Homo sapiens: one gene and its partners. The protein of the gene in region 7 purifies or fractionates together with the protein of the main gene of each other region. This does not show direct contact. Each region holds a gene or a part of one and is shown on either strand. Other genes may lie near its edges.

Region 1 (4,264 bases), on a different chromosome or scaffold from region 7:
GGAAAGATCTCCCAGCAGCTAGGGCACTGGCTGATGCTTAGTAGGACTCAACAACTGTTAAGTGAAGGGAATATCACCCAGCAGCTAGGGTACCTAGCACACAGTAGATACCAAATAAATATACACAGACTGAAGAAAAGACTCGAAAGTGATCCATTGCCAACCTGAACAGAGAACTCTAGTCTGTCTGATTCTAAAATGAGCCCAGGAGCTGAGACACCCCCGAAGGCCAGGGTGGGGTTTGTTCCCTGCCCCCACTGGGGGAAGAGAAGGCAGGCGGGCAGTGGGACTGAGGTGCCTCTGTTTCCCTGCCCACCTGCCTGCCCACCTGCCCACCCGGAAGGATCTTCCCTGACCTCAGCAGCAACGACATGCTCCTCTTCATCGTGAAGGGCATCAACTTGCCCACACCCCCAGGTGAGGGGGCTGTAGGCAAGGGTCAGGGTCATGGGGACCCCCTCTCTGCCCAGCTCTGACCGTTGTTTGCCCACAGGACTGTCCCCTGGCGATCTGGATGTCTTTGTTCGGTTTGACTTCCCCTATCCCAACGTGGTACGTGGGGAGCTGAGGAGGGGAGGGCTGCAGCCTCAGTGGGCCAAAGCCAGGTCCCAGGCCCCCTAGATTTCCTGCCTCCTCTCTGGTCATAGGAAGAAGCTCAGAAAGACAAGACCAGTGTGATCAAGAACACAGACTCCCCTGGTGAGCCTCGGCTGGAAGCACCCTACCCCTACTCCCTTGCAGCAGAAGGGACATAAGACAATGGCCTGACCCCACCCAACTTCCTCTCCCTCCTTCCTCCTGCAGAGTTCAAGGAGCAGTTCAAACTCTGCATCAACCGCAGCCACCGTGGCTTCCGAAGGGCCATCCAGACCAAGGGCATCAAGTTCGAAGTGGTTCACAAGGGGTGAGCTAGAGAGAGCCATGGCCGCTGGGTGGGCTCCAGGGGAGGGGAGCTCCTCTGAACCAACCATCCTGTCCCCACTATACACACATGCACACAGGGGGCTGTTCAAGACTGACCGGGTGCTGGGGACAGCCCAGCTGAAGCTGGATGCACTGGAGATAGCATGTGAGGTCCGGGAGATCCTTGAGGTGAGAGGTGGACATTCATCCGCGTGCTCCGGTATGGCCATGCTACTCGTTAACATTATTAAAACACTTCCTGCCTTGAGCCCTCTATGAGCCTGTCTGTTGACCCAGCCCCTCCCCTCAGAGCCTCAGACCTCCCTACTGCCCAGCCCTAAATACTTGCAGTACCCCACTCCATTATGATCAACTGGTATCTCAGCCATACCATGGGCTCATATTTTAGAAACCACTCTTGGCCAGGCATGGTGGCTCATGCCTGTAATCCCAGCACTTTGGGAGGCTGAGGCGGGCAGATCACGAGGTCAGGAGATCGAGACCATCCTGGCTAACATGGTGAAACCCTGTTTCTACTAAAATACAAAAAAATTAGCCAGGCATGGTGGCGGGCGCCTGTAGTCCCAGCTACTCGGGAGGCTGAGGCAGGAGAATGGCGTAAGTAAACCCAGGAGGCGGAGCTTGCAGTGAGCCCAGATTGCACCACTGCACTCCAGCCTGGACAACAGAGCGAGACTCTATCTCAGAAAAAAAAAAAACCAAAAAAAAAAACCAGTCTTGTTCTCCCTTGTCCTGGCCCTGGGCCTCTAGTCACTTCCTGCTTCCCACCAACAGTTTCTCCTTACCCCCACCCAGGTCCTGGATGGTCGCCGGCCCACAGGGGGGCGACTGGAGGTAATGGTCCGGATTCGGGAGCCACTGACAGCCCAGCAGTTGGAGACGACGACAGAGAGGTGGCTGGTCATTGACCCTGTGCCGGCAGCTGTGCCCACAGTGAGACCCCCCACCCCCACCCATCAGCAACCCCAGGGAGGGAAGCTTGGTTCAGGGGCCCAGGACTCACAGGACTGGTTCTCTCCTCTGAAGCAGGTTGCTGGGCCCAAAGGGAAGGCCCCTCCTGTGCCTGCCCCTGCAAGGGAGTCAGGGAACAGGTAGGTATCTGGGCCAGGGCATGCTGGAGAAAACACCCAATTCCCCTCTCAGCCCCACCTGGACAGTTTCCCACCAGGCACAAATTGGACCACGTCCCTCTCCTGCTGCAAAACCTTTCTTGGCACCCCTTTTCCCAGAGGATCCAGTTTAAACTCCTTGGTTTGGTCTTTAAAACCTTTTGTGATCTGACCATTGTCAACATATCCAGGCTTCTCTCTCCCTACTCCCTCCTGTGGTTCATGTCCATGAATAGTTTTCACTGGCCTCTGGACTTCTGTGGGTTCCAGTGCCCTGAACACCCCTACCTAGGGTAGGGGTGTTCCTTGTTCCTCTGCCCACCTCTGATTCCTTCTTTGGATCCCAACTTGGCTGTTACCTCCTCCAGGAAGCCCTCCCTGACCACTAGGCATCATAGTTTCCTGGGTGTGCAGCCATCATCCCCGCTAGGTTTTGGGATCAGTAACACCGGGTGGTTCTCGGCTGTCTCCCACCATACCCCCAGTGCCCAGTGTGTCTTTTTTTTTTTTTTTTTTTTTTGAGACAGAGTCTAGCTCTGTCGCCCAGGCTAGAGTGCAATGGCGCGATCTCAGCTCACAGCAACCTCCGCCTCTGGGGTTCAAGCGATTCTCCTGCCTCAGCCTCCTGAGTAGCTGGGATTACAGGCATGCGCCACCACACCCAGCTAATTTTTCTATTTTTAGTAGAGATGGGGTTTCTCCATGTTGGTCAGGCTGGTCTCGAACTCCCGACCTCAGGTGATCTGCCTGCCTCGGCCTCCCAAAGTGCTGGGATTACAGGCATGAGCTACCATGCTCGGCTTTTTTTTTTTTTTGAGACAGAATCTTGCTCTGTCACCCAGGTTGGAGTGCAGTGGTGTGATCTCGGCTCATTGCAACCTCCAGCTCCCAGGTTCAAGCAATTCTTCTGCCTCAGCCTCCCAAGTAGCTGGGACTACAGGAGCACACCACCATGCCCAGCTAATTTTTTTTCTATTTTTAGTAGAGACGGGGTTTCACCATATTGGCCAGGCTGGTCTCGAACTCCTGACCTCATGATCCACTCACCTCCGCCTCCCAAAGTGCAGGGATTACAGGCGTGAGCCACTGTGCCCAGCCCAGTGTGTCTTTTGAATTAACAGGGTTGGGCTGGGGGAATCTCTGCAGTCCCTTATCCTTCCTCCACCCCTTAGATCAGCCCGGCCCCTGCATAGCCTCAGTGTGCTGGCGTTTGACCAAGAGCGTCTGGAGCGGAAGGTGGGTATCCATCCTGCCGGGCTACATGGGGCAGGACTGGGGAGTCTGCAGGCCCAGGCAGGATCCTCACAGGACCCTCTGTATCCTCTAGATCCTGGCCCTCAGGCAGGCGCGGCGGCCGGTGCCCCCAGAAGTGGCCCAGCAGTACCAGGACATCATGCAACGCAGCCAGTGGCAGAGGGCACAGCTGGAGCAGGGGGGTGTGGGCATCCGACGGGGTAGGGGTTTGGAGATGGGCATCTGGTGGGGGAGGAGCTCCAGGATAGGCATGGGGGGGGAGGTGCTCAGGGATGCATATCTGGTGGGGGAGGGGCTCGGGGATGGGCATCTGGAGAGGGAGGGGCTCGGGGATGGGCACCTGGAGGGGGAGGGGCTCGGGGATGGGCACCTGGAGGGGGAGGGGCTCGGGGATGGGCATCTGGAGAGGGAGGGGCTCGGGGATGGGCACCTGGAGGGGGAGGGGCTCGGGGATGGGCACCTGGAGGGGGAGGGGCTCGGGGATGGGCACCTGGAGGGGGAGGGGCTCGGGGATGGGCACCTGGCGGGGGACGGGCTTGGGGATGGGCACAGTCCAGGAGGGTTGTGGGCAGTGAGGCCCCACCCTAAGCCTCCATTCCCCCGCCATCCATTCTCAGAATACGCAGCCCAGCTGGAGCGGCAGCTGCAGTTCTACACGGAGGCTGCCCGGCGCCTGGGCAACGATGGCAGCAGGGTGAGCTGGTCGCGGGCCGGGTGGGCACTGGGCAGCGGGCAGGGTGGGGCCTGCAGGGACTACCTGCTGAATGCCCATCCCCCACAGGATGCTGCAAAGGAGGCGCTCTATAGGCGGAATCTGGTAGAGAGTGAGGTAAGCAGCTTAGGAGATGGGGTGGTTGGGGGATCACTGTGGTCGTAGCCCACCTCCATGACCCCAGTGGCCTCCTCTCCCCCAGCTGCAGCGGCTCCGCAGGTGAGGAGCCCATGGGGCGGGCAGCCCCCAGAAAGCGGGCAGCAGG
Region 2 (4,264 bases), on a different chromosome or scaffold from region 7:
GGATTCAACCAACTGCAGATTGAGATATTCAGGGAAAAAAAAGCATCTGTACTAAACATGCACAGACTTTTTTTTTTATCATTATTCCCTAAACAATACTTCATAACAACTATTTACACAGCACTTACATTGTATTAGGTATTACAAGTAATCCAGGAATAACCTAAAGAATAGGGGAAGGTGTCAAAGGTTATAGGCAAATACTGTGCCATTTTATGTCAGGTACCTGGCCACACCCTCAGATTTTTTTTTTCTTTTTTTTTTTTGAGACAGAATCTCGCTCTATTGCCTAGGCTGGAGTGCAATGGTGTCATCTCGGCTCACTGCAACCTTTACCTCCCAGGTTCAAGCGATTCTCCTGCCTCAGTCTCCCAAGTAGCTGGGACGACAGGCGTGTGCCACCACGCCCCGCTAATTTTTTTGTATTTTTAGTAGAGACAGGATTTCACCGTGTTAGCCAGACGGTCTCAATCTCCTGACCTCGTGATCCGCCTGCCTCTGCCTCCCTAAGTGCTGGGGTGAGCCACAGCACCCAGCCCATCCTTGGATTTTGATAGCCATGAGGGGTCCTGGAACGAATCTGAGGAACTGTATGAAGCTATGAGCAGAAGCCACTACTTTAACTTGATTCTCTTGCTAATATTTTCTTTGCATTTTCTTCTGTGTCATCTTCATACCTCCACCTCAAATTTTAAAAAGACAGTTGGAAAATAAAAGAAAGCCATTTTTTTAAAGGGCTGAGAGTGTAAAAAGAAGGAGAAATTAGTTATTTTCAACCCTGCAGGACACTGGAATCGTCTGTAGAAATCCTAAAATATATCAATGCCCTAGCCCTTTCCAGGCCCTACTGATTATTTATGGAATATAAATTAGCATGGGTAGAATCCCAACATCTGTCTTTTTTTTTTAAGCTCCCAAGAAAACTGTAATATGAACTCGGGCCAAGAACCACTAGTAAAAACTTTCTCCACAAATCCTTCCCTCCTCTCATCTATTTAGTTAAATGTTAGCATTCCCAGCCCATAGCAAGGACTGCATGAACTATCTTTAAAATTGTCCATTTTTCTTCTTTCATTTACTCTGTCACAGAAGAAAAATTACTAATTTTCAACTGGAAATTTTTAAACAAGTGTGTATAGTAAAATTAATTTTAGCTTATTGGATATTCTCATTCCCAAATGCTCAGGATTTCTTTTTCAGTCTTAAAAAAACCACCTTCATTAGTAGGTATTAAGGTAAACAGCAAAGCATACAATAATAAGCAAACTCACAATATGCATTCTAGTTATCGACTTTCAATAGATATCAGAAAATACTCAAAACAATTATCTTAAGGAGCTGATTATATTTTGATACTTTATTAACTACAAACATTTGCAGAATCTCAATTATATAAAGACACATCAGCAACAATATATCCTGATACTCGTATGACAGAAAAAGTACTCAGTAAAGATCCTTTTTTTAAAATAAAAACTGGCATCACAAGATTCCACATCTTTAAGATTTAAAGATTTACATTTTTGGAGTAGGGAGAGTCAGACTGTTGTCAGATTCCCTAAAATAAATGTAGAAAAGAAAATAATGTTTTGTAAAAAATATGCATCTATAAACACTTTTTTTCAAGGTCATCTAAAACTGACACCTACTAGTTTCATCTCCAAAACAATACTAGACTATTTTTGTACTCCAAATTAGAATTTTATTAAAAGGTCCTGTAGTCATAAATTTGCACACCCTAAGACTTATAGAATACCATAAATTTTCTCTCTTCTGTCCTGATTACCTAATATATTTGCCTGCCACTTGAAAGTATTCATTGCTAGAATATAAAATAAGTATTTCACAGAAATAGAAAATAAACATGACACACAGTGGGTGTAAAGAAAAAAAACATTTTCACTTCCCTTTTTACTAAAGGAAATTCTGAATATAATTTTAACTCTAATAAATCACAGTCTAATACACTGCCTAGTATACCACCTGAAGTCAAACCAAACAAACTAAAAAAATAAATAACACAATAATTTCAAAATATTCAGAAGTCCACTAATTTTATAATGTATATTTGTACCAAAAGATATTATATGGCCAATTTCAATTTAAAATTTTAAGATAAGTAATTTTAATACATCCAATTTTAAACATAAAGAAATCTGCAAAGTATCAATACATTTGAGGCACACTTTATTCATGGTAATATACAAGGAAAGCAGTTATATATTAAAATCTAAACTGGTAGAAAACACATCCCACCCCAAGATTCTACCCCCCTCAAAAAAAAAAAAAAAATTACTGTTTTTTCTGATGGTAGAAATAATGCACAGTGACAGCTGAAAACCCAAACAATATAGAGAAGTAAATGAAGTATAAAAATAAAAATCATCCTAAATCTCACCATTTATAAACAACTGACATTAACATAAATATTCTTCCAGAAGATGGATGGATTTACTCCATATACTTACAACCCATACATATATGTATCTATGTATACATGTATAGTATATATGCACATATATATTCCTTTCATTTACATATATTGATGGTAAAGAAATGCTTAAGATCATTTTCTTGAAAATAAAATAATGAATTGTCCCAAACAGTCTGCTTTTGCATTTTCATTTAAGCAGGCTAGGTTTAAGATTATTCCATGTGTGTGTGTCTGCCTGTCTTTCTGTGTGATGTTGTCATTGTTGTTGACTGCTTGAGGCAAGCTGAAAAATTTTGTCTGTTTACTTATTTTACTGGAAAAAAAAGAAAACTTCTGGTTAAATTTTTCCAAAGCCTAAGAACACAGGTATCTGTACTAAAGGTGATTAGCTGACTGATTTACATTGGTAGCCCACAGTCCTGAGCAAAACTGTAAAGTAGACAAGATTATTATGGCCTCCTAATTCTTACTCAGAAAGAGCACTCCACTAGTAATTAGGATATAAGAGTTCTACTAATCAGGTGTGTGGCTTGAGCATTTCAATCTTCCTATGATTCATTTTAAGTCTAAAATCCTATGGTCCTTCCCTTCCTCCCCAACCCCTTACCAACTCTGCTGCTCTCAAAATATGTAAAAACCATCCTTTCCTCCAATCTCACTGGAATTCCAGGATTCAAAATAAATCCTTCTGACCAAGAAACTCCCATTTCCTCAATGCACTTATTCTCCCCTAGATATGATAAGCAAAGTAATCAATGAAATCAAAGGTATGGGCAACTTCATGGTGAGGAAGGAAAGCAACAATGCAGAAAAAAAAATTTAAACAAGTTTATAGGAAAAAATTTTAATGTAAAATTAAATGGCTTCATGAGTTTCATAGAAAAAAATTATAATCTTTCAACTTCACCACCTATTTTATTGATTCAAAGTTAGCCAATGAAAAAATAAAGTAGTGTTTTTAGCTCCTAAAATATTCAGACCCAGCCGGGCACAGTGGCTCATGCCTGTAATCCAGCACTTTGGGAGACCGAGGCAGGCAGATCACCTGAGGTCAGGAGTTCAAGACCAGCCTGGCCAACATGGCAAAACCCCGTCTCTACTAAACATACAACAATTAGCCAGGAAAGGTGGCGACTGCCTGTAATCCCAGCTACTCAGGATGCTGAGGCAGGAGAATCACTTGAACCCAAGAGGCAGGGGTTGCAATGAACCGAGATCATGCCATGGCACTCCAGCCTGGGAAACAAGAGTAAAACTCCGTCTCAAAAAGTAACTTGCCAGCCACGGTGACTCAAGCCTATAATCCCAGCACTTTGGGAGGCCAAGGCAGGCAGATCACTTGAGGCCAGGAGTTCGAGACCAGCCTGGCCAGCATGGAGAAAGCCCATGTATACTAAAAATACAAAAATTAGCTGGGTGCAGTGGCATGCACCTGTAATCCCAGCTACTTGGGACGCTGAAGCACGAGAATCGCTTCAAAACAGGTAGACACAGCGATCACTATTTATCATCTCTCTAACATCCATATCCCCCAAATTCTTCCTTCCCACAATTTTTTTAAAATATCCTCCCTCTTCCATCTAACTCAGAAAAATGTGATCCCAACACCAATTGCAGAAGGTATCTCCTGATTAGTAGAAACCAACCATGATAACCTTACTTCCCTTATGATAACTAGTTAGGACGTTCATGTGACCTAATTCTGGTCAATAAGATACGAAGAGAAAAATATGTTGGTAGGCTTATGCAAAAGATGTATTTGCTTTTCCAGAGACACAGACAGAAAGAGAGAGAGAGATCCATTCCATCCTCTGGCCAGTGCATGTCTAG
Region 3 (4,264 bases), on a different chromosome or scaffold from region 7:
GCTGAATGGTCCCTCTCACTGTTTCTTGGTAGTTTGACTTCACTTTTGTTGAAGTTTATCGCGTCAAGAAATTCCAGTTTACGTCGAAGCACATGGAGGATGAGGACAGCGACCTCAAGGAGGGGGGGAAGAAGCGCTTTGGGCACATTTGCAGCAGCCACCCCTCCTGCTGCTGCACCGTCTCCAACAGCTCCTGGAACTGCGACGGGGAGGTCCTGCACAGCCCTGCCATCGAGGTCAGGTGCGTGCAGGGGTCCTCCAGCCACCAGCGCCATCCCCTTGAGCCCTGAGGTGTCTGTCACAAGCTGCCCCACCCAGGGTGGGGGGTTCCCTGGGGCTTTATAAACACAAAACGTAAGAATGTTTTATAAATGCACTTTTCTCTCCCTATGTCAAATATCGAATGAGATGCCGTTACCCACATTCTGGAAAGATGCCAGGGTGCCGAGTCCTCAGCATTTTGTTTTGCAGATAATTTTCATGGGTGTTTGAAGCTCCTCCATTTCATTCTTTTCCTCTTCCACACCCTGTGCTCCAGGCTGGCATTGGGCTCTTTGCCCTGGCATTCTCTCTCTCTTCTCCTAAATAATTCAAAAGGTGGGAGGCTGAGGCGGGCAGATCACTTGAGATCAGGAGTTCAAGACCAGCCTCGCCAACATGGTGAAACCCCGTCTCTACTAAAAATACAAAAAAAATTAGTCGGGTGTGATGGTGCATGCCTGTAATCCCAGCTACCCCGGAGGCTGAGGCAGGAGAGTCGCTTGAACCCAGGAGGCAGAAGTTGCAGTGAGCCGAGACCATGCCACTGCACTCCAGCCTTGGTGACAGAGCGAGACTCCATCTCAAAAAAATTTCAAAAGGCAAACAAAGGAAACCGCCTTTACAGGCAGTCCTTTGTCCACTGAATCCACCAGGGAACCGCTGGCCTCAAGGGCCACAGTCAATCACCAAGTGCAGGTGCTCCGTGCAGGGAGGGGCAGGAGGCAGCAGGGCTGGGAAGGGCACCCCGAGGATGGGAAGGAGAGGAGGAGCCCCAGAGGGACGCCCCGTGCTGGAGGCCACGCAGCCTAGGGGACGCGGGGAGGCAGGTGTGGCCACACACGGATGTTCGGTCTCCCTGGGGCAGGTGCCACACCCCTCCTCTGGCTGGCTGGGCGGAGGGTGGGAAGTGGTGTCCTCCCCACACCCACTGGGGCCCATTGTATTTGGAAGTCTGTGATGTATCACATAACCAGATGGAATCTGAGTGCAAAGAAAATTGTTTCTCCATGGAAAGACCCAGTAACAAGCAAGTTGATTTTTTCAAAAGGCCACTGAATTAGGTGTGGGCGTGCAAATTACATGAGACTGGGGAACGGTAGAGCTCAGGTGGATTCTGAACTCTTGGCAGATGTTGGTAAGAGCTCGGTCTACTTCAAGGAAGCCCAGCTTGACGCTCGTTAACAGAGTGTGGCTGGCGTGAGAGCGATAGCAGGCTGGTCAGCAGGCCCACGCCTGTCTGCAACGAAAGCTGGGTGTCAGATGGCCCTTGGGTGCCTTAAGTCACAGCATGTAAGAGGATGCACGCATCTCTGTGGACAGCGCCCCACTTTCAGTGACTCCTCAGCCAGCCAGCTGCGGCTCTAAGAAAGCTTCTCCCATTCGCATCCGAACAAGCCTAAGGGAGGAGGTCTCTGCCCCTCCCCAGGCCCAGGGCCACGCGCCCCCTTTCTTTCTGTCAGGGCGGTGGTGATGGCAAGAGGCTGTCGAAAGGTCCCAGGAACACCGGCCACCCCAGGCAGCCGTGCACAGGGACTTTCCTCTGTCAACTCATTTGACAAGTTTGGGAAGTGGGATTATTTTTAATATTGGTGTATGTATTTATTAAAGAAATAGAATAATTTGAAAATCAGGACAGGCATTCTTGAAATACGTCCTGTCTATCTTGATAAATATGGCTATGCCTTGAGCAGCACGTCGCTTTTAAAAATATAATTTGTGTGTGTGTGAGCTCAGCTCCATGGAAACAGCCTGTCACTTATTTATTTCTATTTTTTTATTTTTTGAGACAGAGTTTTGCTCTTGTTGCCCAGGCTGGAGTGCAATGGCGAGGTCTCGGCTCACTGCAACCTCTGCCTCCCAGGTTCAAGCAATTCTCCTGCCTCAGCCTCCCAAGTAGCAGGCGCCCGCCACCACACCTGGCTAATTTTTATATTTTTAGTAGAGACGGGGTTTCACCATGTTGGCCAGGCTGGTCTCAAACTCCTGACCTCAGGTGATCCGCCCGCCTGGACCTCCCAAAGTGCTGGGATTATAGGCGTGAGTCACTGTGCCCTGCCCCAGCCTGTCACTTAATGAAGGGGTTTAGGTTACTGAAATACGTCTGAGGAGGCTGTGATATCATTAATAAATGAGATAAATAGAGCTGTCCTGTGTGGGAAGATGGCACTCACCCACGGACTCACTGTGGCCACCGAGCCCCTGGGCAGGGGACCTCCAGGGACCCCCAACTTGTTCCTCAAGCCCGAAGGCTCTTGCTGGCGTTGGGCCACCTGTCCTTCTCATCTGAGCATTCCTCACACATCTCTTACACGCATTGAGTCGCCCCGCACAGACTCCTCGCAGGCCTTGCGCGCTCAGTACTGCTGAGAAAATGGAGGTGGGTGGGTGGGTGGAGTGGGCAGACACTGGAGCGGACGCTCTGCTTTCCATGGGGGTGCTGGAGTTCGAGTCAGGTCTACCGATGCCCAGATTTCCCACCTGGCCATTGGCAACCCCTTTACAAACTCGGCATCCCGGGAGTCTAAGTGAATTATTCCACGCCCAGGGCCCGTCATTGTGGGCTGGACTCCTACAGCCCACGGTGACGTCTGACCGTTCCATGGGGGATGGACCCCCACTTCAGCCCCTGTCCAAGAGCGGTGCTCAGGGCCAGCTTTGAGTGAGGGACACGTGGGGTTTACTGCAGCCCCTGTCCAGGAGTGGGGCTCAGGCCAGCTTTGAGTGAGGGACACGTGGGGTTTACACGTGGCCGCTTGTCTCTGCAGAGTCCACTGCCAGCTGGTTCGACTCTTTGCACGAGGAATTGAAGAGAATCCGAAGCCAGACTCACACAGCTGAGAAGCCGGCGTCCTGCTCACAAACTGGGAAAGTGTGAAAACTATTTAAGATAATTATTACAGACCAATTATGTTGATATATACATTTAAATGTAGAAATTTATTTTTGATAGTTAAATCTTGATTTTAGAAGAAAACCCTTTTGTCAACAATTTTGTGTACATATTTGGCATTTTCAGTTCTGTACGCATCTGCGGGTTGCAGCCCACGCCGCTTACTCTCAGCGGATGCAGCTGCTCACTTGGGGGCACTGGCCTCTTAGGTTTTAACGATGTCAACAGTGTAGTTTAGAAAATGGCCCGTTAGTGGCTCTATTGCAATAATGTTAGGGACATTATATGATTTCCACGCAGGTCACACCATCTGGGCCTGAGGTAGCAGTGGGTCACTTTGATCCACTTTGCAGGACTTATTCTGTAACGGTTTGTGGCCAAGTTTTGGGAAGTGGTTGATTCTCTTTGCCTTCATTTCACCTTCCTCTTCGTTTACGGTTAGGACATCGCTGCTTGATCCTTACAATACTGTGCAACTGCAATGCAACGTGGCCCTGCTTCAGGTGATCCGCGGGAGGGGCCTCCACGCCAGCGCCGGGAAGGCTGCTGGGGCCTCCACACCTGCCTCATCACGGCGGCGAGGCTACGACAATCCGGCTGGGAGCATGACCTTGGCGTCTGTTCTGGGAGCACGGATGATAAGCTCTGGAAGCTGGCAGTGTGTAAAGCACTGGCAAGTTTGTTACTGTTAAAATGTCAAATACCAATGCTTTATATCGACGCGAAGTGCTTAACACAGCCGGGCTTGGGGGCAGTCAGGAGGAAGCTGGCCATCCGTGGAGGAGGGGCCGGTCCTGGACTCCCGCAGGACTCCTCTGAGGCAGGGCCTGAAGTCTGTACACGTGGTCCAGATTTGTCCTTGTCTTTTCTTCACACTGAGTTCTCTATATTTATTGAACATCTTGTCCTTTTAAGCCAGAGTAGTGTAAACTGCGTCTCGGATGTCTGTCTTTTGCCTCGAAGCCACGATGGATCGCTGGTTTCCTCTGCAGCGCGAGGGCTCCGGCGACCAGAGGATTCTTCCCGGAAGGCATTCCTGCCGCGCTCCCCGGGGCACCCCTCAATTGTGTACTACGTCCTTGTTTAGTGTGTATCCGTGCCCACGTAGATGAT
Region 4 (4,264 bases), on a different chromosome or scaffold from region 7:
TTTTTTTTTCTTCCAACTTAAGTTTGGTCCAAGGTCATTAAATTCAGTTGATAGCCAAACATAGTTGATGATAAGCAGCTAAACATTATTATTGTGCTACTGCCACCTGAAAATTACGGATATTTATAACTCTCGCAAAATTATTAAATGCCTACTTTGTGGAATGATTTTGAAGAATAACAAGACACTTCTGAAAATTCCAGTTTCTGTAGTCATGTTATGAACAAGTGTTGAAAGTTATTTCATATTCATCATTTTAGTCAAAAAGTCTATAAGGTTTGCACTTTGTGCTATGCATAATATTAATGCATAGTGTAGCCAATCTTTAATATATAAATCATCATTTTTCTTTCTCTGTAGATTTATCTTGTACCTAAAACTTTGGCTCGAAAGCGAATCTGGAATAAAAAGTACCCCATTTGTATCGAGCTTGGTCAGCAAGATGACTTTATGTCTAAAGCTCAGACTGATAAGGAGACTTCAGAAGAGAAGCCGCCAGCTGAGGGAAGTGAGGACCCTAAGAAGCCACCCCGCCCTCAGGAGGGAACAAGATCTAGCCAGCGAGATCAGATACTCTATCTCTTTGGGAGAACTGGCCGAGAAAAAGAGGAATGGTTTAGGAGATTTATTCTGGCATCTAAGCTAAAGTCGGAAATCAAGAAGTCATCGGGTGTCTCTGGAGGTAAACCAGGTAATGATGTTTGTGCTAAATGCTTATGCATTTTTAAAGGGCCACTAGGGAGAATAGAGAAAGAATGCCAGGTAGGAAGGAAGGAAGGAAGGAAGCCCACCCTGAACTGATGGTTGTCTGCCACCTAATGTGCATTCTCATGACTCATTTACCATCTAGGCTGATCACTGCAGCCGTCTGTCCCAAATCATTTAACCAATGATGGATCCATTTGCAGATGATGTTTATTAGCCTTTGCTGGTTATGTTTTATTTGTATATAATGTGACTCCCCTGAGAGAAGCAGCAACAGAAAAACCCTGGTTCTGAGATGGCAGGTGAGTCAGGGAGATCCTTCAGGCTGGTACTTTCGAGCACCTGACCCTCAATATGTCTTCCGAGCCTGAGCTTGCCATAGAATGCAGAATCCTTGCACTTCCTGACCATTCAGGTCAGATCGTGGTCATTCGGATTGATAACCATGCAGCACCTCTTTGCTCAGCTTTGGCTGGGCTTGGAGCTGCAAGAGACACAAAACCAGTAAAAAGCAGTAGCTCCCCTGTCCTTCAGGTGTTGTGCCTGTTATGCAAAACTGGCACGTATGAGTCAGGTGTTCACAAATTGCCATGCTAAAATGAGTGTGGTGTAACAAATAATTGGGACAAGACCAGTGTGGGTGTTATTAGGGAAAGCTTTCTTACATGGATCTGAAACAAAGACTAGGAGGGAGCCACTCTGGGGCTTTCTCTAACAAGGCATTTGTGTTGATCCGGGAGTTATGCTGGTCACATGAGTGTCACACATTGCTTCAGAGTGCTTTGGTTCCTTCCCCTGGAACATAATCTGAGCCTTTGCCCTAACTCCTTTGCTAACCTTCCATTCTGTCAGCTTCAACACCAGATTCCATCCTAATCCCAGCACTGAGATCTAAGAAGTCCCTTTTAAGAATCAAGACGAATGGGGAGATTACTAGATATATTTATTTCCTAGGGCTGCTGGGACAAAATACCACAAGCTGGGTGATTTACAACAGAAATGTATTCTCTCACAGTACTGGAGGCTGGAAGTCTGAAATCAAGGTGTTAGCAGGGCCATGCTCCTTGTGAGACTCTGCATAGAATCCTTCCTTGCGTGTTTGCAGCTTCTGGTGGTGACCATCAATACTTGGCCCGCAGCCGCATCACTCCACACTGGCCTATCATCACATGGCATTGTCTGTCAGTGGCTCTGTGTCTTCTTGGAAGGACACCAGTCATATGGGATTAGGAGCCCACCCTGTTTCTAGTATGACTTTATTTTAATGAATGGCATCTACAATGACTCTGTTTCCAAATAAGGTCACATTCTGAGATACTGGGGTTAGGACTTTAACATATTTTTTGGAGGACACAATTCAACCCATAACACTGAGTAAAAGAAAATTCAAGTGGGTAAGAACTCCTCAGCACCAGGCACTGCCTAGCTCTCCTGGTAGGTCTAAACCTGTGCTGCTTCTTACGGTAGCCACCAGCCCCATGTGGCTTTTGAACACTTGAAGTGTGGCCAGTCCAGATGGAGGTGTGCTCTAAGTATAAGATGCACATTGGATTTCAAAGTCTTAGTCCAATAAAAGAATGTAAAATATCTCATTAATAACTTCTTATATTGGTTACATGTTGAAATAATATTTTAGATATATTGGGTTAAAAATATATTCAAATTAATTGTATTCTTTTTACCTTTCTTTTTCTTTCTTTCTTTTTTTTTTTTTTTTTTTTTTTTTTGAGATGGAGTCTAGCTTTGTTGCCCAGGCTGGAGTGCAGTGACACGATCTTGGCTCACTGCAACCTCCGCCTCCCAGGTTCAAGCAGTTCTCCTGCCTCAGCCTCCTGAGTAGCTGGGATTACAGGCACCCGCCATCACGCCCAGCTAATTTTTTATATCTTTAGTAGGGACAGGATTTCACTATGTTGGTCAGGCTGATCTTAAACTCCCAGCCTCAAGTGAACCGCCCACCTTGGCCTCCCAAAGTGCTGGGATTACAGGCGTGAGCCACTGTGCCCGACCTCTTTTTACATTTTTAAATGTGACTACTAGAAAATTTAAAATTGTTTATGTGGCTCAGATTGTATTCCTACTGGAAATATAAAGGTCTACTGGTCTAGGCACTGAAGCTCAGAATCAGGTAACCCACGGGGGTATATGGGGCCACCAGGAAACACCACCTTAGGTACTTAGGGGCCCCCCAGAGCACCTTCAAAAGAGGCATGTTATTCATGGACTTAAATAAAGCATTTGATTATTTTTAACGAGTTCAATTTTTGGAAATCCTGCCAAAAGTTCCACTCAGCACACAACAAACATAATGGTAAGAGTCAGAGATGTGGGAAAACCTTCAGTGCACTCACTGGTACTAAAGCAAGGCTCACACACCACTAATGTCTTCGTACATCTGTAAGTCTGGGTTGCCTTTGAAAGCTATGAATTGAGATATTTATGGTAAGTTTAAGCCACCAAAAGTGTGATTAAACTAGTAGCAAGGTAAATTGGTGAGCACTGTGCTGTTCTTCAAAACCATCTCTGAATCAGTGACTACATAGGTGGTCAGCCGTGAAGGTAGGACTGGTCTGATTCTCTGAGGCCAGGTACATCTATCAGTACCAAGAAGTTAGAAGTCTTCCTGCTCGACGACCTGCCCTGTCCTCTCCCTCAGGGATGCTGTCACCAAAATCATAGATTTCTCTAGCAACACGGATTGTGCTTCTCAGACTTGAATGTTTGACGGGATCTTAAGATGCAGGTTCTGACTCGAGGTCATGGGTGGGGCTGAGATTCTGCATTTCCAGCCAGCAGTGCCCAGGCTGCAGGTCAGGAAAGGCCTCCCGGAGGAATAAGAATCTGGAGACAGCAGGAAAGCCACATGGTCATTTGGCAGAATTCCAGTATGGTCTCTGCACAGGAAGGTCCTTGACTTTATCAGGGGCTATTGTCCATGAGACCCACAGTGCAGTGACGACTCCTGTGCTTTGTCCCACTCAGGGGAAGGGTGAGGTGATGTGAAGAGGCTGTTCTGTGGGCAATGAGCACCAGCCAGGCCTCGTAGGGGGTTCCTTTCCTCCTCTACATGGAGTGTGGCTCAGTCACAATGGGATCAGTTTGGTTTGAAGTGTTGGTATCATGCTGCCCTGTTTATTTCATCTTTTTTTCTCTTTTTTACTATTAACTAAACTGTAATCTTTATTTGGATTTCACTGGTTTTTCTACTAATGTCCTTTTTCTCTTCCAGGATCCAATCCAGGATATTAAATGTAATATTAGTTTACATCTATTTTTTAATGTTTTTGATGTAGCTTTTATCCTAGCAATTAAAAAAATGCTAAACATGAAAACGGTATAAGGATAATAAAAGTTACAAAAATGTATTTTTATAGTTATGCAGTGTAAAATATTAAAGTGCTGGAAATTATCTGGCTAAAATTTAAATTAAGAAATGGCTTGCGTGACCCTTTGTGAGGCTCTGGGGAATTATGGTTCTGATGGTTGGAGCCTCTTAAGAAGAAAATGGTTTGATTTGATTTTTTGATTTCTTTCTTTCTTTCTTTCTTTTTTTTTTTTT
Region 5 (4,264 bases), on a different chromosome or scaffold from region 7:
CCTAAATTATGATATTATGAAACATAGTCATTAAAAGTGAATTTTTTTTTTTTTTGAGACGGAGTCTTGCTCTGTCGCCCAGGCTGGAGTGCAGTGGTGCAATCTCAGCTCACTGCAAGGTCCACTTCCTGGGTTCAACCAATTCTCCTGCCTCGGCCTCCTGAGTAGCCAGGATTACAGGCGCGTGCCACCATACCTGGCTGGTTTTTTGTATTTTTAGTGGAGATGGGGTTTCACCATGTTGGTCAGGCTAGTCTCAAACTCCTGACCTCAGGTGATCTGCCGACCTCCGCCTCCCAAAGTGCTGGGATTACAGGCATGAGCCACCGTGCCCAGCCTAAAAGTGAATTTTTTTTTTTTTTTTTTTTTTTGAGACAGAGTCTTGCTCTGTCACTCAGGCTGGAGTGCAGTGGCGTGATCTTGGCTCACTGCCACCTCTGCCTCCCGGGTTCAAGTGATTCTTCTGCATCAGCCTCCCGAGTAGCTGGGACTACAGGCGTGTGCCATCACACACCTGGCTAATTTTTGTGTTTTTAGTAGAGACAAAGTTTCACGATATTGGCCAGGATGGTCTTGAACTCCTGACCTCGTGATCCCCCCACCTCGGCCTCCCAAAGTGCAGGGATGGGCGTGAGCCACTGCGCCCGGCCTAAAAGTGAAATTTTTAAGAAATAATTTTACTTAATGTGGGAACTTTTTCATAATACAATAATTTTTACCCCAAAAAAAGCTGCAAAAGTGTTTTTACTTGGAATTTTCAGCAATTGGGGCATTTTATTTGTTTTTTTAGAGTCAGGGTCTTGCTATGTTGCCTAGGCTGGTCTCGAACTCCTGGGCTTACGAGCTCTTCCTGCCTCAGCCTCCTGAGTAGCTGGGACTACAGGCGAGCAATTTTTCTTTTGAAATCTTAGCAAAAAAAAAAAAAACTGGAAGGAAATATGCCAAAATATTGTCATGTATCCCTTAGAATGATGTAGCTATTTTTCTTTATAATTTTTTTCATAATTTTTTACATATATCAGTTACCTTACAATGAGAATAACAAGTCATAAAGTGAAAAAAGAATTAATTAATTAAAGGAGGCACCAATGGCTCATTTCAGCTTAAGCCCAAAAGACAAATACCTACAGTCTCATAAAGTTTCTCTAAAGGAGATATGTAGGGCCGGGCGCGGTGGGTCACATCTGTAATCCCAGCACTTTGGGAGGCCGAGCCAGGTGGATCACAAGGTCAGGAGTTTGAGACCAGCCTGGCCAACATGGCCCTGTCTCTACTAAAAATACAAAAATTAACCAGGCATGGTGGCAGGCGCCTGTAATCCCAGCTACTCGGGAGGCTGAGGCAGGAGAATCACTTGAACCCAGGAGGCAGAGGTTGCAGTGAGCCAAGATTGTGCTGTTGCACTCCAGCCTGGGCAACAAGAGCAAGACTCCGTCTCAAAATAAAAAAAAGAGATATGTAAATGTCAAGTTTTTGGCATGTTTTTTAAAAAAGCAATTAAATGTGATTGTGAGGAGAGAAAGGCAGTTATATAATTATGAGTAATAAGCTCTTGTGCTACAGACATTGATTGAGTTCAGCCCTAGCCATGTGCCAGGACTGAGCCAAGTTATGACTTAACATATTTACTTCATTTAATCCTCACAACAACCCCTTGAGTTTGGACTTTTTTTTTTTTTTTTTTTTTTTTTTTTTGAGATAGTCTCACTCTATCGCCCAGGCTGGAGTGCAGTGGTGCAATCTCAGTTTACTGCAACCTCCACCTCCTGAGTTCAAGTGATTCTTGTGCCTCAGCCACCTGAGTAGCTGGAATTACAGATACGCACCACCACACCCAGCTAATTTTTCTATTTTTAGTAGAAATGGGGGTTTGCTACATTGGCCGGGCTGTCTCGAACTCCTGGCTTCAAGTGATCTGCTTGCGTTGGCCTCCCAGAGTGCTGGGATTATAGGCATGAGTCACTGCACCTGGCCAGGCAATTTTTTATCTCCATTTTATAGCTGAAGAAACTAAGGCTCAGTGATTTGCCCAAGATAGCACAGCCAGAGTGGGTGCTCAATAGTTATTGCAGTGGCTGGGCTCAGAGGCTCAGGCTCACATCTATAATCCCAGCACTTTGGGAAGCCAAGGCAGACAGATTGCTGAGCCCAGGAGTTCAAGACCAGCCTGGGCAACGTGGTGAAACCCCATCTCTACTAAAAATCAAAAAAATTAGCCAGGCATGGTGGCGCAAGCATGTAGTGTTAGCTGCTTCAGAGGCAGAGGTGGGAGGATCAGCTTGAGCCCGAGGAGGTCAAGGCTACAGTGAACCTTGATCACACCACTGCACTCCAGCCTGGGCCGCAGAGCAAGACCCTGTCTCAAAAAAAAAAAAGTAATTAAAAAAAACATGTTAAAATAATTTTAAAAATAGCACAAGAATGAATAGTTCTCCCCTGAATGTGAGATGTTAATCAATTGTTTGATATGCCTCCCCCTCTCTAATTCTTCTAGTGTTTGCAGTGAAGCTCTTGCCTATTTCATCACTGTGAATTCTGAGAGCCATCGGGAGGCCTGGACAAGTCTCTTGTTGTTACTTCTAACTAAAACCCTCAAAATAAATGATGAAAAGGTATGAACAAGTAAACTCTGACCAATTTTCACTAGGACATAAAGTTTGGGTTGGCTTTTTACTCAAGAGTTTGCAGTAACTATTTTCTCAGTTCTCCCAAGGATGGTTACGTGACTAGCACCATTCTAGATGCATTGGAGAGAAGTTAATCCGTTATGGACAATGGGTGCCACAGGATATTAGGGCTTTTTGCCTGGAAGAACAGTAGTTGAGAACGGCTGAAGTGTAGACCTCATGTGTTGCTGTTAGGAATGGTATGGTGAGTTTCAGTGCAGGAAGAGAGGGTTAAGATTGTGAAGCACCAGTTTTGACCTAGGAACCTGCTTTACAAAATAAAAGAGCTGTTGACTTTTGGCAGCAAGACTATCCAAATTTAATTAAAGTTAAATATAACTGAAAGAAGCTTTAATTTGCAAGGTTTCTTCAACTTCTTTTTTTTTTTTTGAGACAGAGTCTTGGTCTGTCACACAGGCTGGAATGCAGTGACGTAATCTAGCTCACTGCAATTTCTGCCTCCCAGGCTCAAGCGATCCTCCCACCTCAGCCTCCTGAGTAGCTGGGACCACAGACACGCGCCACTATGCCCAGCTAAGTTTTTGTATTTTTGGTAGAGACAGGGTTTCACCGTGTTGCCTAGGCTGGTCTCGATCTCCTGAGCTCAAGCGATCCACCTGCCTCGGCCTCCCCAAGTGCTGGGATTATAGGCGTGAATCACTGCGCTCGGCCCCAACTTTCTAATAGCAAGAAAAGCACCAATATTGTAATAAGTTCCAGGGTGAGATTAACACTTCTGAAAAACTGGTGCCCAAAAAAAAAAAAAATTGTCTAATTTTATCTGTTTCTCTCCCACCTCAAGTTCAAAGCACATGCTTCAATGTACTACCCCTACTTGTGTGAAATTATGCAGTTTGACCTGATCCCTGAGCTCCGAGCAGTTCTGCGGAAGTTCTTCCTACGGATAGGTGTTGTGTATAAGATATGGATACCAGAAGAGCCATCACAGGTACCAGCAGCACTGTCACCAGTGTGGTAGCCCTGGCTGCCCAGGCCAGTGCTGCAGCTCTGCAGAATGTTCAGCATGCCATTTCTGACTGGCACATCTCGTGAAGTTTCATAGAAACAAGGAGTTGGCATCTTGGATCTCAGAATGGCCTGGAAACGGATGGCCTCTACGCTGTTCCATCACAGTCTCCAACTAAGGCTTATGGTATTTCATTAAACTGTTGCATACCCAGTTAGCACAGTAGGTGGGGAGTCTGCTTCATTTCTATCATTCCATTTTTCTGATTAAACTGTCAAATCTGTCATTGCATATGCCATCGTTTTCTAGCAAAATCCCATGATTGGCTATAAACGTTTTGTAAGAAGTCACTCTCCTTGAAAATACTGAACATAGCTGTATAGGTTTGTGATTATTAGAGAATATGTTAATAAAACTTCTTGTAACGGCTAACTGCCACCTAAAATATGCTGGGTTTTCTGTTGTTTGAGTGTGTTAGAGAAATTTGAATGTTTTTGTCAGTTACGAGTCAGCCGTAATTAGATTAGTTTAAGGACAGGTCAGGATTAGAGAAGAGTTGTTTTTGTGTTTTGTTAATGTCTGAGTGATTTTTAAAGTATTTTACAAAAAGATATTGAAAATTTGGTTGAAG
Region 6 (4,264 bases), on a different chromosome or scaffold from region 7:
AGACATTCACTTAGTCCTACTCTTTTCTTACACCCTCCTACTCTGCTGTGTGACCGCTTCGTACCTCTCCTCTTCTCAACCCCCCACCTTCTCAGTGGATGAGCTGGTTTCTGACTTCACTGAGAAAATGGAAACCATCAGAAGAGGATTTCACCAGATGCCTTCTGCTACCTCCATGTACCTACCTGCTGCCGCCCTGCTTGTTTCTTTTCTTTTCTTTTTTTTTTTAGATGGAGTTTTTGCTCTTGTTGCCTAGGCTGGAGTGCAGTGGCGCCATCTCGGCTCACCGCAACCTCCGCCTCCCAGGTTCAAGTAATTCTCCTGCCGCAGCCTCCCGAGTAGCCGGGATTACAGGCATGCACCTCCACGCCTGGCTAATTTTTGTATTTTTAGTAGAGACGGGGTTTCTCCATGTTGGTCAGGCTGGTCTCGAACTCCTGACCTCAGGTGGTCCGCCTGCCTCGGTCTCCCAAAGTGTTGGGATTACAGGCATGAGCCACCATGCCCGGCCACCCTGCTTGTTTCTACCAAGGATGGCCTGTGCTTCCGCTTGATCCCAGGCCTCTTTGTGCACTGGATCCCATCTCCTCTTGCCCAGCCACAGACATTATTTGTTTTTGTTTTTTTTTTTTCCCTCAGCCACTGACATCAGTTTTTGCTCTCCACTTGATCATTCTCATCAGGAATAAAGGCATAAACATGCTTGCATTTTTCATCTTAAAAATACAAACTTTGGGCTGGGTGCGGTGGCTCACGCCTGTAATCCCAGGACTTTGGGAGGCCATGGTGAGTGGATCACCTGAGGTTAGGAGTTCAAGACCAGCCAGACCAATATGGAGAAACCCCATCTCTACTAAAAATACAAAAAAAAAAAAAAATTACCCAGGCATGGTGGCGCATCCTGTAATCCCAGCTACTTGGGAGGCTGAGGCAGGAGAATCACTTGAATCCGGGAGGCAGAGGTTGTGGTGAACCGAGATCTCGCCACTGCACTCCAGCCTGGGCAACAAGAGCGAAACTCCATCTCAAAAAAGAAAACAAAAACAAACTTTGGGCACAGTGGCTCACACCTATAATCTCAGCACTTTTGGAAGCTGAGGTATATGGATCACCCAAGCCCAGGAGTTTGAGACCAGCCTGGGCAACATGGCAAAACCCCATCTCTACAAAAAAATACAAAAATTAGCCATTCATGGGCCAGGCGCGGTGGCTCACACCTGTAATCCCAGCACTTTGGGTGGCCGAGGCGGGTGAATCATCTGAGGTCAGGAGTTCAAGACCAGCCTGGCCAAAATGATGAAACCCCATCTCTACTAAAAATACAAGAAATTAGCCAGGCATGGTGGCAGGTGCCTGTAATCCCAGCTACTCGGGAGTCTGAGACAGGAGAATTGCTTGAACCTGGGAGGCAGAGGTTGCCGTGAGTCGAGATCGCGCCATTGCACTCCAGTCTGGGCTAGAAGATTACAACTCCGTCTCAAAAAAAGAAAAAAAAAATAGGTGTGGTGGCATGCACCTGTAGCCCTAGCTATTCAGGAGTCTGAGGTGGGAGGATCGTTTGAGCACAGGAAGTTGAGCCTGCAGTGAGCAGAGATCATCGGGAACCTGTCTCAAAAAAACTTCTGTCCAGTCTTTTCCACACCAATTTCTATGCTTCATGACTTTGCTCCCTCTTACACAAAAACTCTTTGAAAAAGTTGTTTCTTGTTTTTGTTTTTGTTTTTTGTTTTTTTTTTGAGATGGAGTCTTGTTCTGTCACCCAGGCTGGAATGCAGTGGCATAATCTCGGCTCACTGCAACCTCTGCTTCCCAGGTTCCAGCAATTCTCCTGCCTCAGCCTCCCGAGTAGCTGGGAATACAGGTGCACACCACCACGCCCTGCTAATTTTTGTACTTTTAGTAGAGATGGGGTTTTGCCTTGTTGGCCAGGCTGGTCTTGAACTCTTGACCTAAGGTGATCCACCCACCTTGGCCTCCCAAAGTGCTGGGATTACAGACGTGAGCTGCCACACCAGCCTGTTTCTGGTTTTTTTATACCTGCCATTTCCAGTTCCTCTCCTCTAATTGTTAAACCTGCTCCAATCTGGCTTTTGCCTCACAACTGCAAATAAAGTGGTTTTATCAAGGTCACTAGTGACTTTTTTTTTTCCTTTTTTTGAGACAGAGTCTCGCTCTGTCGCCAGGCTGGAGTGCAGTGGCATGATCTCAGCTCACTGCAACCTCCGACTCCCTGGTTCAAGCAATTTTCCTGCCTCAGCCTCCCGAGTAGCTGGGATTACAGGCACACGCTACCAGGCCCAGCTAATTTTTTTTTTGTATTTTTAGTAGAGACGGGGTTTCACCATGTTGGCCAGGATGGTCTCCATCTCCTGACCTCGTGATCCACCTGCCTCGGCCTCCCAAAGTGCTGGGATTACAGGCGTGAGCCACCATGCCCAGCTGGTCACTAGTGACTTTTACACTTCAGTGGTTAGTTCTCAGTACTTATCTTTCTTTTCTTTTCTTTTTTTTTTTTTTGTTTGAGACAGAGTCTCGCTTTGTCTCCCAGGCTGGAGTGCGGTGGCGCGATATCAGCTCACTGCAACCCAGGCCTCCTGGGTTCAAGTGATTCTTGTGCCTCAGCCTCCCAAGTAGCTGGGACTACAGGCACACACCCAGCTAATTTTGGGGGACTTTTTTTTTTTTTTTTTTTTTAGAAACAGGGTTTCACCATGTTGACCAGGCTGGTCTGGAACTCTGGCCTCAAGTGATCTGGCCACTTCAGCCTCCCAGAGTGCTGAGATTACAGGAGTAAGTCACCGCACCCAGCCTTGTCTCATGACTTTTAGACACCATTTTTATGCTGATGACTCAAATTTATATCTCTGTGGGCGCTGTGGCTCACGCCTGTAATCCCAGCACTTTGGGTGGCCGAGGCGGATGGATCACGAGGTCAAGAGATCGAGACCATCCTGGCCAACATGGTGAAACCCCATCTCTACTAAAAATACAAAAATTAGCTAGGTGTGGTGGCACGTGCCTGTAGTCCCAGCTACTTGGGAGGCTGAGGCAGGAGAATCACTTGAACCCAGGAGGCGGAGGTTGCAGTGAGCTGAGATTGCACTACTGCACCCCAGCCTGGTGACAGAGCAAGACTCCGTCTCAAAAAAAAAAAATTATATCTCCAACTCAGACTTTTCCTGAACTCCAGACTAGTTTATCCAACATTTCTATGTGGATGCTAATAGGTGCCTCAAAGTCATCATGTACAAAACTGAGCTCCTGGTCTTCCCTGTACCTCCTCTACTCTCAGCATTTTCCAGTTCAGTTGGTAACAATAGCATCCTTGTAATTATTCAGGATTATAGCCCAGGAGTCCTCTTAAATTCCTCTTTTTCTCCCACGGTTTAGATTCCATCTGTTGAGCAATTAGGCTGGCTTTCAACATTATCCCAAATCCATCCCTTCACACCATCTCCATTGTGGCCATACTACTTCAGGCCACCTTCATCGCTGTCCTGGATGACAGTGAGGGCCTCCTTACTTGTTTCCCTTCTTATAGTCTGTACATACATAACAATGATAGGATTCTGTAAATATGTTATTCCTATGCCCAATCCTCCACGGCCCCCCAGGTCACTGTGAATTGGCTCCAGCATTCTCAGATAACATGACCTTCCTTCTGTTCCTCAGACATACCAGGTACATATGTCTGGATACTTTGGGGAAGTTATACCAAAAAAAAAAAAAACCATTGATACTCAATTGACATTATCTTACATTTATTATTTTTAGAAAAATAGAAATCTTTCTTATTGAAAACTTTTCCCAACTAGAATTAGGACTCTTTTTATTGACCTCTTATTTTGTAATCCTCAGATATTTTAGAGTTTTATTTATACAAAGCCTATTGCTTAATTCACATATTTGTTGCTTTTTTTTTTTTTTTTTTTTTTTTTTTTTGAGACAGAGTCTTACTCTGTCACCCAGGCTGGAGTGCAGTGGTGCAATCTCGGCTCACTACAACTTCCGCCTCCCAGGTTCAAGTCATTTTCCTGCCTCAGCCTCCTGAGTAGCTGGGATTACAGGCATCTGCCACCACGCCCAGCTAAGTTTTGTATTTTTAGTAGAGATGGGGGCTCTCACCATGTTGGCCAGGCTGGTCTCGAACTCCTGGCCTCAGGTGATCTGCCTGCCTTGGCCTCCCAAAGTGCTGGGATTACAGGCGTGAGCCACCGTGCCCGGCTTTTATTGCTATTTTGAATGGGATCCATTTCTTGTATTG
Region 7 (4,264 bases):
TACCAGAAAGTAAATATTTTAGGCTTTTTGGGCCCATCCTTTGAACAGTATGATGATGTGGGGTTGGAGTCTTTTTTTGTGGAGTCCATGTCTGGGATGGGAAAGAAGGGGTAAGGGAAAGGGGAGAGTGATGCAGAAGTGGGGTGGAAGGGTGGTGGTGATTTTGCCTCAGCTTCCCTGAGGATTGTGCCCTGGAGGCAGTGGGGACGGATGCGGGCGAAAGAAACCTCAGAAAGCTCTTGAAGTGGGGCTGCTTCAAGAATCTTGAAGCTCAAGATGACTGGTGACTGCTCAGTGAATCTTTGTTACCGCTGACATTTCATTCAGATTTTCCCTTATGTTACTGCTATTTGTCACTTTGTCTTCCTTTCTCCATTATAAGGGAAGGTCTGTGGAGTACTGATCTGTCTCAGGCATCTCTGCCCACCCCACAGTGTGCGGTGTCTTGCACACAGTAGGTGCTCAAACACAGTTATTGAACACAGGCTGCATTGACTTATCACCTTCGGTATCCGTGCTGCGCAGTGCAACCATCTTCTCCCAAAGAAGTCAGGATTTTTTGGTCTAAAATAGTCACAGTTAACAAAGATACTTGGGAAATCCTGAAAATATCATAAATTTCAGGAGTAAGCAGTTGGACAAGTTGTGGACTTCTGTTGAGTATCTTCTGCAAGATCCACTATGCAACTTTTGCTGCCTGTTTTTCTTTATTCACTCCATTTTATTAAACTTAGTTTCCTCCAAACCCACTGGAAGCAAGAAAAGCAAACAAACAAAACCTTAGGTTGCTCATCTCCATTGTTGCATAGTAGGTGTTGAATGGATACCTACTGAGCTAGTTCATTTCTGATACTAATTTGATTACTTCTCCTGAACATTCTTTCTTCTTACAGAACTCTCTGTCCTCTACCTCCCAAATCCCACAAAACATCTCGCCTCCACACATAGGCTGATTGCTTGGGAATGGTACAGGAGGCCCTTGGTGATTCTAATTGATGAAAGACTAAAAAATTCCCTTATAGGGGAACATAAATCAATGTCAATCTGAGATTGAGTAATACATCAAATTAGTATCAGCAATGAACTAGTTTCAGCAGGCTCTTTACATACTCTTGCAGGTATAGGTGCTGAGGCTGAAGCTGTAAGCTCAGAGATTTTGACATACTCTTTCCCTCCTTTCCTTCTTTCCTTCATCAGTTACTGAACATTTGTTATGTGCCAGGCATTGGGTTAAGTTCAAAAAAATATACAGTGTCTGATTTCAAATACATTATTCCACTCTAGTGGCAAGAGAAAAGGAAGTAGTGGCCACATGATATGAGGTGTGAGCAGCTGGTAAGAACCTCTCCTGGCCTAGGAGGTAAGACCTCCTCAAGGGGTTTGCTGCCAAACTCCTGAATGCGATCAAGAGTAATTAAGGTAACTGTGCAGCTCTGGATGAATTAACAGGTTCTGCGCTTGACTTTCTCCATTTGTGCAGGTCGGAGATGTCCGCCCAGAGGTTAATTTCTAACAGAACCTCCCAGCAATCGGCATCTAATTCTGATTACACCTGGGAATATGAATATTATGAGATTGGACCAGTTTCCTTTGAAGGACTGAAGGCTCATAAATGTAAGTTTTATACAATTCCTCATTGAAAGCATAATTGTATTTCTCTTAACCTGTGAAATCCCCAAGGATTACTTCTCCTGAGCATTCTTTCTTCTTTACAGAACTCTCTGTCCTCTACCTCCCAAATTCTACAAAACATCTCGCCTCCACACATAGGCTGATTGCTCAGGAATGGTACAGGAGGGCCTTGGTGATTCTAATTGATGAAAGACTAAAAAATTCCCATAGTAGGAGAACATGAATCAATGTCAAGCTGAGATTGAGAATTTTTAAAAAGCATTTGCTTTTTTAGCTCCTCCAAACTGTGAATGTTTGAACTATCAAAAATATGTATAAAAATAGGATCTGGAACTGTTATTTGAAGAACCTTCTTTTGTAACACAGCAGCATCTTTTCATCCCAGTTGGTTTCCTGGAGCTGTGGAGAGCAGTGTATCCATGTGTGCTCATAATGATGGACCAGAATAGCCTGCGATCATTTCTAACACTGTGTTCTAGGCATGAATTGTGTTTCATGCTATTGGAGTAATTAAGGGTCCAGCACAGAGCAAGGAAATGTAATTCTGTGAGACGTTGCTACTCAACTCCAGTCATAACTGAATGCTGACTGGCCAGCATGGAACATCCTTGCTTCATTAGGTAGAGTTAACAGTTAACATGGTAGGCAGGAACTGCTGCCCAGTCTCAGATCCTGTCTTGGTAACCCCGTAAATATCCCTGAAATGTTCACTTTTGTCAGAGTGAATTATCCACAGCACTGTAAAATTTTTATGCTCTTAACTGGTCCAGGTTAGTGGGACACATTAGGAAATATAAGAGGGCTTAGAATCAGAGAAACAAATGTAGCAAAGAAAGTGTTTTTGTTCCTTTAATTATTTCCTGGCTGCTTCTATCCTGACCTGTCTTGGCATTCATGATCTCTTGCACCAACTTGGTGCTCTTTTGCAAGAAGGGCTTTCTATTTTTGTTCCTTTAGCAAAAATCATTAATTAAACCATATGTCCTTTACCCCTTAAGTGAGTAGTAATAATTAAATACTTTCATTCATTCCTTTATTGACATCTGCTCAGTATTTCTTTGTGGAAAAAAAGCACATGGCATTTATCAAGGTATGCTGTCATTGATTATCTGAGAGAAGGCTGTTGGGTGTGAAATCACCTTCTTTAATTTACTTAAATTCTTTAATATGTTGTTTTTCTAGGATAACCTTTATGTAAGGACAATTGCTTGTTCTGAATTATAGTGGATATCAAAATGACTGGGAAAATTGCCACATATTTTCTTGAAATGTGGGCTTTTACTGCTTGGTGACATCAACTTTACTTTTGTGTCAGCTTGCTCCTATCTCTTTTCCTTAGTTTAAGAAGCACAGAAGACAGGCCTGCTGCTGTAATTTTGGTTGGTACATTTCCAGAGACAATTGAATAAAATATTTTTTGAGGATATTACATTCTAGAAATAATTATAGCTGGAAAACTTCATGAGAAACATAGGCAGAGGTGTGACTCATTCCTTACTTACTTACTTTACCTACTATACCATTAATAACAATTGCTTTTGTTAATTTTAATATTCACGTCAAGATAAAACAAAAATGCCTGAGCACTTACTGTTCTGATATAAGAGAGCTGATAAGTAGCAGCCCTTAGCTTCAGGAACCTGAAAATATATGCGACACATTGAGAACAAAAAATAAACAAACACAAAACCCCAGATATACAGGAAAGTGAAAAGATCAAGTCAACTGTTGAAATGTGTGCTCTGGTACAGTCTCTTTCATTTAAAAATGCTGTGACTCTGACCTTCAAGTATGACTCCTTGTTTTGCTGGGCAAAATTCAAAGCTAATTAGATGCAGATTCAAAAGAACAGAAGCAGGACATTTCAAGGGGAAGCACTCATTGCGGACAGGAATGACCATAACAGTTATCTTTATTTGCCTTACCTGTAATGGATCACACTTGGCAACAATAGCTCCATCTTTAGACTGAGTTCCTCTGCTGAAATTAAGATTCCTACCTTCAAAGGGTGTTTCATCTGAGAAGCAACCTCAGATGGTGCTTGAGAATTCTTTTGCCATCAGTTTTGAATCCAATATTAAACCTTATCATGTATCAGAAGTGGACATGTATCTGATACAGATTTGGCACCAACAAAGTGGAAACCTATTTATTTATTCATTCATTCAATATATATTTATTGAGCACCTGTTATGTGCAGTACTATTTTAAGCACTGGAGAGACAACAGTGAACTGAAAAGACAGAAATATTTCCTTGTATAGAGCTTGCATTCTAGTGGGAGAGACAGACAATAAATAGTTAAATAGATAATGTCAGATGGCAATATAAAAGGATAAATAGAGTGGGGGTAAAGGGATGTGGAGTGTGGAGGCGACAGTATAGAATTGCCATCGAAAGCCTTACTGAGAAGGAGAGATTTGATAAAAGACCTGAAGGAAGTGAGAGATTGAGCTATAATATATCTGGGGGAAGAACATCCCAGAAAAGGATCCTTGGCGGGAGTGAACTGGATCATGCAAGGAGGCCAGCGTGGTACCAGGGGAGTGATAAGAGGCAGAACAGCAGGAAACGAAGTCAAAGAGGCTGTGGGGACAAGGACATGGGGGGGCCTTAGAGGTCATGCTAAGGAC

What was found.
Region 1: the proteins of MRAP2 (region 7) and CC2D1A purify together in Homo sapiens (affinity purification with mass spectrometry; 2 studies listed by BioGRID and IntAct, with this or other methods). This does not show direct contact.
Region 2: the proteins of MRAP2 (region 7) and CSNK1G3 purify together in Homo sapiens (affinity purification with mass spectrometry; 2 studies listed by BioGRID and IntAct, with this or other methods). This does not show direct contact.
Region 3: the proteins of MRAP2 (region 7) and CERK purify together in Homo sapiens (affinity purification with mass spectrometry; 2 studies listed by BioGRID and IntAct, with this or other methods). This does not show direct contact.
Region 4: the proteins of MRAP2 (region 7) and TEX2 purify together in Homo sapiens (co-immunoprecipitation; 3 studies listed by BioGRID and IntAct, with this or other methods). This does not show direct contact.
Region 5: the proteins of MRAP2 (region 7) and ARFGEF2 purify together in Homo sapiens (affinity purification with mass spectrometry; 2 studies listed by BioGRID and IntAct, with this or other methods). This does not show direct contact.
Region 6: the proteins of MRAP2 (region 7) and SLC25A20 purify together in Homo sapiens (affinity purification with mass spectrometry; 2 studies listed by BioGRID and IntAct, with this or other methods). This does not show direct contact.

What each region holds. Positions count from the first base shown.
Region 1 is NC_000019.10:13,926,174-13,930,437, forward strand, and holds part of CC2D1A (coiled-coil and C2 domain-containing protein 1A), read left to right. Parts: intron 1-343; coding exon 344-417; intron 418-493; coding exon 494-552; intron 553-647; coding exon 648-699; intron 700-804; coding exon 805-904; intron 905-1,001; coding exon 1,002-1,092; intron 1,093-1,719; coding exon 1,720-1,857; intron 1,858-1,950; coding exon 1,951-2,015; intron 2,016-3,205; coding exon 3,206-3,269; intron 3,270-3,360; coding exon 3,361-3,487; intron 3,488-3,904; coding exon 3,905-3,981; intron 3,982-4,068; coding exon 4,069-4,116; intron 4,117-4,201; coding exon 4,202-4,222; 3' UTR 4,223-4,264. UniProt on the Homo sapiens protein: Transcription factor that binds specifically to the DRE (dual repressor element) and represses HTR1A gene transcription in neuronal cells. The combination of calcium and ATP specifically inactivates the binding with FRE.
Region 2 is NC_000005.10:123,518,505-123,522,768, reverse strand, and holds part of CSNK1G3 (casein kinase I isoform gamma-3), read right to left. Parts: intron 1-4,264. UniProt on the Homo sapiens protein: Serine/threonine-protein kinase. Casein kinases are operationally defined by their preferential utilization of acidic proteins such as caseins as substrates. It can phosphorylate a large number of proteins. Participates in Wnt signaling.
Region 3 is NC_000022.11:46,685,969-46,690,232, reverse strand, and holds part of CERK (ceramide kinase), read left to right. Parts: intron 1-32; coding exon 33-241; intron 242-3,026; coding exon 3,027-3,099; 3' UTR 3,100-4,264. UniProt on the Homo sapiens protein: Catalyzes specifically the phosphorylation of ceramide to form ceramide 1-phosphate.
Region 4 is NC_000017.11:64,189,986-64,194,249, reverse strand, and holds part of TEX2 (testis-expressed protein 2), read left to right. Parts: intron 1-360; coding exon 361-691; intron 692-4,264. UniProt on the Homo sapiens protein: During endoplasmic reticulum (ER) stress or when cellular ceramide levels increase, may induce contacts between the ER and medial-Golgi complex to facilitate non-vesicular transport of ceramides from the ER to the Golgi complex where they are converted to complex sphingolipids, preventing toxic ceramide accumulation.
Region 5 is NC_000020.11:49,029,555-49,033,818, forward strand, and holds part of ARFGEF2 (brefeldin A-inhibited guanine nucleotide-exchange protein 2), read left to right. Parts: intron 1-2,494; coding exon 2,495-2,612; intron 2,613-3,468; coding exon 3,469-3,645; 3' UTR 3,646-4,264. UniProt on the Homo sapiens protein: Promotes guanine-nucleotide exchange on ARF1 and ARF3 and to a lower extent on ARF5 and ARF6. Promotes the activation of ARF1/ARF5/ARF6 through replacement of GDP with GTP. Involved in the regulation of Golgi vesicular transport.
Region 6 is NC_000003.12:48,864,026-48,868,289, reverse strand, and holds part of SLC25A20 (mitochondrial carnitine/acylcarnitine carrier protein), read left to right. Parts: intron 1-4,264. UniProt on the Homo sapiens protein: Mediates the electroneutral exchange of acylcarnitines (O-acyl-(R)-carnitine or L-acylcarnitine) of different acyl chain lengths (ranging from O-acetyl-(R)-carnitine to long-chain O-acyl-(R)-carnitines) with free carnitine ((R)-carnitine or L-carnitine) across the mitochondrial inner membrane, via a ping-pong mechanism.
Region 7 is NC_000006.12:84,053,832-84,058,095, forward strand, and holds part of MRAP2 (melanocortin-2 receptor accessory protein 2), read left to right. Parts: intron 1-1,480; 5' UTR 1,481-1,487; coding exon 1,488-1,614; intron 1,615-4,264. UniProt on the Homo sapiens protein: Modulator of melanocortin receptor 4 (MC4R), a receptor involved in energy homeostasis. Plays a central role in the control of energy homeostasis and body weight regulation by increasing ligand-sensitivity of MC4R and MC4R-mediated generation of cAMP.